Linked DNA regions of Homo sapiens: region 2 is linked to region 1. Evidence: fine-mapped QTL for protein levels in blood plasma. Region 1 holds a variant in brackets. A gene starts in the other region. All regions are shown on their reverse strands.

Region 1 (4,387 bases):
TATAGGAGTTAAATTTATATTAATTATGCTGAGCAAAATCCTAAAAGGGTAGCATTTTAAAACTTCATTAACTAGGACATTTCCTTAGCTGAAGGTGATAAATGATGTTAGCAAGCAAGCATAAGATAGCAAGCAAAGACTTCCTAACTGACCTCAGAAGTGGAATAACGCAACAGTTCAAAATTGAAGAGCAAAAACGACCTAAGGCAGCTACACTGTACAGTGCCTGGCACACAGCAGGTAACCAATAAACTGCTGTTGATCAGATGCTGGACTAATACGTGTAGGTTTATTTTCTTCCTTCAACACGCTGTACCTGTGTTGGATACAAATAAGGCCTTGGGAGTCTGCCCGAAGAAATTTAAAAGACCCTTCAATCAAAAGGTCGCTTGTTGGATGATGTAACTAGTTAGGAATGGATGCACTACCTGTACCAGCTCAATAAGACGCATGTTCCCCATCACATAACAAATACTTGTCTGCCATAAGGGCTTAGAGTCTGATTTTCTGATGAGAAATAAAGCAGTATCTAGAAAAACCCAGAGAATGATATTCCACAAAACGGTAAGCATCGGCAGCATTTCTTAAGAGTATTACACATCCAGCAAATCCTCTTTAAAAACAAGACATTCTAAAATGCAACCAGTTTAGCAGTATTTTTAAGACAAAGACAATGCAAGTTCATTAACCTAAAATGGAGCACAAGCTAAGCAAATAACTAAATCAAAGAGTTCTTCTCTCCTTTTCTTTTGTAAAAATGGGGGAAAGGTATTTTTTTAACACATTTAAAACTTGATTAAAGCCATTCAAATGTTTAATTCATCAGTGTAACCAAAGCTCAAAGCACATCAAAGCAGGACCCATCAGCGGGTACCCAGAAGGCTCCCTCCAAAGGGCGGAGGTAAACACATACACACACACACACACACCACCCCTAAAATTAGTGATTCTGTCTTTGTATAAATTACTTGTAGAGTAGCTCGAACCCATTCCTTCAGAAGTTCTGTGGACTCTTGAAGATAGCACAAAACTCAACGTTTGTTTTTCAAAGAGGTTTTAGCCAACACTTTGGCCTCTATCTAACTCAGACTTCCGGGTTGAAATATGTCTTAGAAACTATACCTGCCTACTTGAAAAAGCACCAAATCTAGAGGATGATTTTCATGGGTGTGAAAAAACAAAACTAAACCACATTCTTTTCTTGGCAGTTCTCTTTTCCCCACCTTCCACTTCAATTAAACTTATTTCAGAATCAACTCGCACACATGCAGGGTCCACTACATATATAAAGGGGAAAAAAAATATCAAAAATAATGGAGATGCACTAGCAACTCTGCCTTTGCAGAAATCATTTCTTCTTAAGACAGAAATTCCTCGCTATTTCCAGCAACACCATTCAACAGGCAAACTTTATTTCCACTGGCTTTTAAAGAGCTAAGCTTAAATCTAAACTCTAAGAGGGTTCAATTTTCTACTAATGAAAACCCCCGGACAGGTTTTTCAACATACCAAAACGTTATATTTTTTTATTCACCCTTTTGTCTCTCTCCACATCCACCACCATCACAAGCAGCAGCAGCAGGAGCATCCTCAAACGAAGAAAACCCCTCCAAAGTGCCCCGAATGTGTGCTGCTGCTGGCTCTGAAGCCGTGTAGAATTTCGTAATGGAATGTGAACTGCTCGTCCGGATCTGGGCTCACGTTCTATCTCCTAACCAGTAAGGAGCGAGGGAGGGCAAATCTGCTGAGCAAGGAGAAATACTTTCCTCCTCTTTTATAACCCATCACGGATGCACGGCGGCCGAGGGGCGCGAGCTGCACGCGGCGCCTGTCAAGCGGCCCGGGCCCGCACCCCGTGGGGTCCCCGCGTCCCCCAGCTCCCCGCCCCGCCCGGAGAGAAAGGTGGCCTCGCCCATCGGTGGGCTCGGCCGACGCGCCCCGCACTCACGCGCGGCCGCGGAGCAGGTCACATCCTCGACGCGCCCTTGGCCCGGTCCAGAAAACACGCCGCTTCCCAGGGAGGGGGTCGGCGACGGGAAGGACCTCCCCTGCTCCTTAGCAACCATTAAGGTCGCAGTTTCCTAAGAGACCGCGAGCGGGGAGGGGGCGCGGGGGGCCCGGCCCAAGGCTTGTGCGGGAAGTTGGGGGCGGGGGGGGCAGCAACAGGCCCCCTCCCCCCACCCAGCTAGACGCCGGGGGCCGGGATGG[G/A]AGGAGGAAGGGAAGCCCCAGAACTCGTGAAAAACTGGTCCAGCGGGCGGCGGACAAAAGTTTCCGAGCGCGCTCCACAGCTGGGCGGCGGAGCGGGCCCCGGCGGCCGGCCCCGCCTCGGATGCTCCCGGCCTCCTTCCTGTGCTCGTGACGGCGCCGAGCCCCCCACCCCCCCCGCCCGCGAGGCAGGCTAGCTCCACACCGAGGGCTCCCACGAAAACACTCACCCCGCCAACGGAAGGGCGAGGGAACAATACGTGCCCGCACGGCTAGGGCCCGGTCCCCTCCTCCCCAGGCCCCCCGGGGCGGTGGTCGGCGTGACCACGACCGCCAGCCGGGAACCCGCGAGGGCGCGGGGCTGCCCGCGGCCCCCTCCCGGCCGGCGCCGTCCGCCCGGGAGGTTCAAAGTCCGCAGAGCAGGGCGCGGCGGATGCTCCCACCGAGCAGCCCCGAGCAGGCACCCCCGCGCGAGCACCCCGGGCAGGCACCCCCGGATACCTTAGGGCGGCGGCGGGAGGGCGGGCGCCGTCATCTCCGCGCTTCCCGGCCCGAGAAGGACTCGAAAGTATGTAGGAGAAAAGTTTCCCCTCCCACATGGGGGGGAGGATGTCGAGGGAGAGAGGGCGGAAGATGGAGAGCAGCGCTGGGAAGATGTTTCTGGCCGGCGGTGCGCGCACCATCCGAGTCCCGGCGGTGCTGGTTAAAAATAAACTCGGCGGCGCGGGTCGGGCCGGATTCCTGCGCTCGGACGGCTAATATGGATGCGCATCAGGTCCTGCTGGCGGGGCGCTGCGGCGGCTCGCGCTGGGAGCTGGTTGGCAGAGCCGGCGGCTCGGGAAAGGGAAAAGAGCGGAGGAAGGGGAGGAGGAGGAGGAGGAGGAGGAATGGCCCGGCGCGCAGCCCGAGGGGAGAGGGCTGCCCCGCTCATCCCTGGCCGCCCCGCCGGCCCGAGCGCACGCTGCGCGGAGTGGGGCGTGCGGGTCCCCGGCTCCGGGACACACCGAGTTTCAAAAGTACAACGCGCTCTGCAGACTTCACCCTCCCCATCCCCAAAGTTCTTTAAAAGGTCGCTCCGGCTGTGCCCCAGACTTCTCGCTGCCGCCGGCGTACCGCGAGTCGGAATCCGGGGCACGTACTTACGGCCGGGCAGGACGCTTGGCTCCCTGGCATGATGCGTTGGGGACCGGTGGGCTTCAGGGAGAGACCGAGGAGAGATGCAAACTTGTTCCGGAAAAGGAATCAAAATGGCGTTTCTGGATGTGCAAAGTTCATCAACTCCGCAGTCACTTCCCCTCCTCCTCTTCTCCCACAGGGAGGGAGGTGGGCGAGGAGCTGGCGACCCCGGCGCCCCAGCCGTCGTCCCGGCCCCCGTCTCGGCCCCCCGCCCAGCTTCCTCGCCCGCACGCTCGGAGTCTCGCTCTCCCCCTCTCACCCTGATAAGTAGACACATCACGTGTTGCTCCTGCGAGTCTCCTGGGGACGTGTTACTGAGCGGCCGCGGCGGCGGCGGCGGCGGCGGCGGCGGCGCTCGGACTGGGGGGGGTGAGGGGGAGGACCGCCGCCCCCGCCCCGACTTTAGCAGGGTGACCGCAGTTGCCATCCCGGGATGGATGGAGGTGGAGTCCCCTCCCCACCCCCCACCGCAGCCCCAGGTTTGCCCTACGCCCTCCCAAGGCGCCCCGGGCCATGGGAGGGCCGGGCTGCCCGAGGGGAAGGGTCCGGGAGGCCGCGACTGGCTGCGATCCCAATCGTCCCGTTGCTCGCGGGCCACCTTATTCGGCCACCGCGCCCCCTCCCCTGCAGCCCCTCGCCGCGGGCGACTCCCCGCCCCCGGCTTTCCATCACTTCACTCCGCAGTTTCACTATTTTAACGGAGGCGGGGGAGACACGGTGATGCCTCGGAATTGCGAGAGGGGCACCTCAGAGGCGCTGGAGTTGGGGGGATGGGGGGCGTAGGGCTCGGGGCCCTGGCCTGACGCCGCCCCTCTGGGTCTCCGAGGCATCTGCGAGGGGGAGCCCCGCCCGCGCCGTTTCCTTTCCACGCGGTCCTCGCTCTGCATCCAGGTGGGGCGAGTGGATGATGGGGCAGGAGATTAAGGAGCAGGCGCTTCACCCCGCCCCTAGCTTCGAGCCGTTTCTCTCCCGGGGCCATCCTTCTTACTCGGGCTGCCGCCCTGAG
Region 2 (4,387 bases), not on the chromosome of region 1:
TCCTTGGTGGTCAGTACTGAGCTGCCTTGGACCAGGAGTCTCCAGCCCTGACTCTGCACTGTGGTCAGTCCCTCCCCTCTGCATGGAGGCACCCCCATCCTGGCCCTCAAGTGGCCCAGCCTCAGCAGAGGGGCCAGCACCCCAGTGAACAGGTGCCTCTCCCAGGGTTTCTCTACTGACTTCCATGATTCCCAGAGAGGATCGCAGAACAGGAGCTGAGCGGCCCTGCCTGGTTTGGGGAAGGTACCATTTGTAAAGAAGGCCACATTAAATAAGCTCACATTTAACATGAGCCCACGTTAAATAAAAGCCAGAGCCGGGGAAGACAGAACTCTTAACTGCTCCAGACTCAGGTGGGGACCTGCTGAAGAAGCATCCACACTTGCCATTCTCAGAGATGCTATGTGGCTTTTCTGAGCTGAAATGCAAAGCTGGGTTTTGGATCACTCTTCTCCAATAAAAGCCTATGGGCACCTTCAGGCTGCTGTGTGGGACGTGGCAGGACCTGGAAGCCTCCTACTTGCTCAGACCCAAGAGGGAAAGAGTGGATGTCAGCTCCACAGATCATGCAGAGGAGTTACGGGTGGTGGGCACCCAGCTGTGCCTGTCTCCAGCCCAGCAAGGGCACGTCTCACACCCAGCCAGGCCACAAAAGCTTGGGGTTGGGGTAAAGGAAACCCCAGTCGACTCTTCTTCTCCCATAGAGGTGGGGCATCACTGTCCCACTCTTGGAAGAAGGATCATAAAGCCTTGGATGTGGGGACAGTTACAGTCCAGGGAGCAGGGGAGTGTAGAGGTGGTGGAGCCTGGGCTCCTGCTGAAAATCAGAAGTGGGACACCAGCAGGACATGGAGGATGTGGGGAGCCTGGGGGTTCCTGACTTCCCCTTACTGCCCTGTTCTCACCACTCACCTGTCTTTCCTGGGTTTCCCTCACCTAGGGAAAAGTGCTCTCTATTGTGCTTTTCACCGTGAAAATGTTTGCCTGCCGCTCTCAGATCTGCCTGCCCTGCTGTCACTCTGGGCCAGTGCTGGAGCTGGCACGGGTGGTGAGGCAAGCCTGGCATCCAGGCCAACCACGCTGCTCCTGCCCTCACCGCGCAGCAGCCGGGGCTTCTCTCCATTGTTCTTGCCCTCCCAGATTTTCAAGCTACCCCATAGAAGGGCAGCCTACAGTGTAAACACTTCATTAGGTATAATTCTGCCTTCACAATTATTTTTATTTTTGCTTTGGATCTCAAAAGCATTTGACTCGCCTTTAATATTTGTTCTTTTGAACTCAGTGTTTTTCCTTTAAAAGAGAAAAGAAAGAATTTGTCCTTTCTGTGAATGGTAAAATTAACCCAATTCCAGGAATTGTTTGGCATTTCTCTACATTTCCACTATCCATGTAAAAAGCTGGTGGAGGCTGAACTAAAAGTTAGTTTCCCTGCTTCCCCGACCTTTTTCTTCCAGTGGATTTTATATGGAAAGCTCTCAGGTACAGCATTGCTTTCTGCTTCAGTAAGAATGGTCCTGCTACCATAACACATCATGTGCCCCTATTTGAAGGTGGTTTGAGGTAAAAGCAAACTTCCGAGAGAAAACCATGATCTGAATATTTTGAACCAATTGTACAGTGCCCATATGCTGAACCTTTGCTTCTCTGCTTCGAGACTGGATATCTACTTGTTATCTGGATGCTTGCTTTGGGGTACACTCAGCTGAATGTTAGTGGCACCCATATTCCTCTCAGAACTAACTAGGCAGGCACAGAGTGAAAGAGTTTCAAAGATATCCTTTCTAAGCGGAGGTTAAGTTTATACAATAGAAGTTTATAAGCTTACCACCTTTAATTAAGCTTACTGCCTTTAATTAAGTCAACATGCTATGTAAATTAATATTAATATTAATATGTGAATCAGACCATAAATAAAAATTAAAATTCACACAAAAGATAAGTTAAGGTTTGCCAATCCACTTTATAAAGGAATTCCTTATTACTTAATAGGAATCTTCACTTTACCAAAGGACTGAACTTCAAAATGTTCAATGCTCTGCTAACACATTGAAAACAGGATTTGATTCATACACAGCTTCTCAAAAGCAGATCCCATTTAGTAGAGTGAGGTCTAACTAGTCTGAAAATCGCATGCAATCCCTTTAATGCATAATTCCCCATTCCCTTTGGTTCACACTGTGTTGAGCCAACAGAGCCTCCTGCATGGTTCCTGGGCTCACAACCCGTGCAGACCCTGACATCTTCCCAAAACCCAAGGCACAGAGAATGTTAGGCGACTTACCCCTGTGATCACAGCACAGTCAGACACAGTTACTAGGAGGAGCATGATTGAGACTCGCGTGGCACCTCTCATGGTCACTTGGGGTGAAGGCAAAACACTGCCTGCTTAGATGCCTCTCGCTTCCTCCCGCTCAGCCTTGTGCCTGGCAAGCTGGGGAGGCCAGGCTCTCCTGCATCCCCCGCCTCCTCCCAGATGTTTACACTCAGGATCCAGGGCTGCCTGTGGATGCCTCATCTCTGCTCTTCCCTTCTCCAACACCGATGTTACTCAGATGATCTCAGAAGCGAAGATGAGACCTGAATCTCTAACAACATCAAATCAACATCAAAACCAATAAAAATGGATACTTGGGGGGCTTTGACGGTTGCTCTAACTCTCCCAAGAACGCAGTGATTCAGACAGTTATGTATATTTCACTCAATGTTCTTTTCTGCCTCTGGGTATCCTTCTATCCTACTTGGGGCAGAGGAAAGCCTCTGGTAATGAATTAAGGGATTTGCAACATCACCATTTATGCTTCCCTGCACCAAACTATGCAACATACAAGATTATTGGTTCCCTCTCACTCACACCAAGACTTATCTAGGCATTTACCATGGGCTCAACACAGAGGTAGCTGAGAAGACAGAAGAGGGTGAGGTGGTATCCTTATTTCTCTAAAAGGTTAAAATTATAGTGAGGAGCCATAAGACAGTGAGGAAAAAAAGACCAGACTTGTGGGGCTGATGTTCCTAAGTGACACACACATAAGGATTTGCTCTCTCATGGGCTCAGGATGAACACCAGCAAGTGTCCCTTGGTACAATGACCCAAGGGCAGAAAGCCAGCAAACATACAGGGCACACACTCTCTCAGTACCCTGCAGAGCCGAGCTGGTATGGGCTGTGGCTGAAAGGTACCAGAGCCACACCACTGGCCTTCCAGTTTTAGGGGTGAGCATGAGAGTGGCCTTATCCGTGAGTGTATAAACACGGTGGTCTCAGATGCCAGTCTGGTGGGAAGTTGACTTTCGGGATGGCCCCTCCGCCTGTGAGGGAAGCCCCTGACCCCAGCCCTCTCTGTGTCATACGACCCAGAGAGAGCTCCCAGTGCTTTGTCAGATGATCTGCCTTCTCTCCACAGTAATAAAAGCCAACATTTCCCAAGGTATGTGTTGCAATATGTTAATACACAAATAAACAAATAAAAGACTTCTACAGTCAAAAATTTGGGAAACACAAACCGGCTTGTTTTTTGCAGAACTTTTCAGGGCCTTTCATATGCTAATAAGTGTTTGAAACACCAAGTGGGAAATGCAGTTTGTAGTATTTCACAAGCAGATTCATCCACAAAACCTTTCTTATCAAATGTCACAGGGGTCTAGGGTTTCCACATTGAAACGCTGATAGGCATTTATGAGTGCAGAGAGGAAGGTTAACTAGCACGGGAGCTGGGAGCTAAGCCCCCAGAGGCAGATGCTTTGATTCAGATCGATGGCTTCATGACCTTGAAAATATTGCTAATCTCTCCAAGCCTCAGTTTTCCTATCTATAACATGGGATAAGAATAGCATTTACATCATACGATTTTGCGAGTATTCATCTATTTATTTATTCATTGACTATATTTATTGAGAGCCTACTGTATAGAAGACACTGTTCTTGGCACTGGGAATATAGCAGTGAACAAAACAAAACCCTGTCCTCATGTAATTTTGACTATAGTCAAGGAGACGGGTAATAGACAAATAAACAGATTTGTAATAAAATGGCCAGTTGTGTTGAGCACTGTTAAAAAGGAAGGCCAGGCGCAGTGGCTCATGCTTGTAATCCCAGCACTTAGAAGGTAGAGGCAGGCGGATCACTTGAGGTCAGGAGTTCGAGACCAGCCTGGTCAACATGGTGAAACCCCATCTCTAGTAAAAATATAAAAATTAGCCAGCTGTGGTGGCTCACGCCTGTAATCCCAGCTACTCGGGAGGCTGAGGCAAGAGAATCACTTGAACCTGGGAGGCAGAGGTTGCAGTGAGCCGAGATCGCGCCACTGCACTCCAGCCTGGGCAACAAAACGAGACTCCATCTCAAAAAATAAAAAAAAGGTGGTGGGGAGAAAGGCAGGGAAAGCAAC

Alleles and levels. Alleles are on the strand shown, and positions count from the first base shown. The strength of an association depends on the size of the effect and on how common the allele is.
For the plasma level of the protein whose gene starts at base 2,421 in region 2, allele A in region 1 goes with a lower level than allele G (weak association).

What was found. A credible set is the group of variants that fine-mapping cannot tell apart. PIP is the posterior inclusion probability: the model's chance that the variant is causal. The UK Biobank Pharma Proteomics Project read protein levels with antibody pairs (Olink). The fine-mapping took linkage between variants from a reference panel, not from the people measured, so its PIPs are less certain.
Region 2: it holds the start of PROK1, and the variant in region 1 is the best candidate, but not a certain one, in a credible set for the plasma level of the PROK1 protein (UK Biobank, PIP 0.63).

Annotation. Positions count from the first base shown.
Region 1 is chr6:7,107,022-7,111,408 of GRCh38, reverse strand. RREB1 (ras responsive element binding protein 1) reads right to left here and starts at 3,448. Exons shown (of 13, transcript NM_001003699.4): 1 at 3,349-3,448. RefSeq lists silencers at 2,080-2,169, 2,190-2,679, 3,470-3,689, 3,750-4,229. The variant G/A (reference allele first, on the strand shown) is at 2,209.
Region 2 is chr1:110,449,183-110,453,569 of GRCh38, reverse strand. PROK1 (prokineticin 1) reads right to left here and starts at 2,421. Exons shown (of 3, transcript NM_032414.3): 1 at 2,282-2,421. The coding sequence starts at 2,353.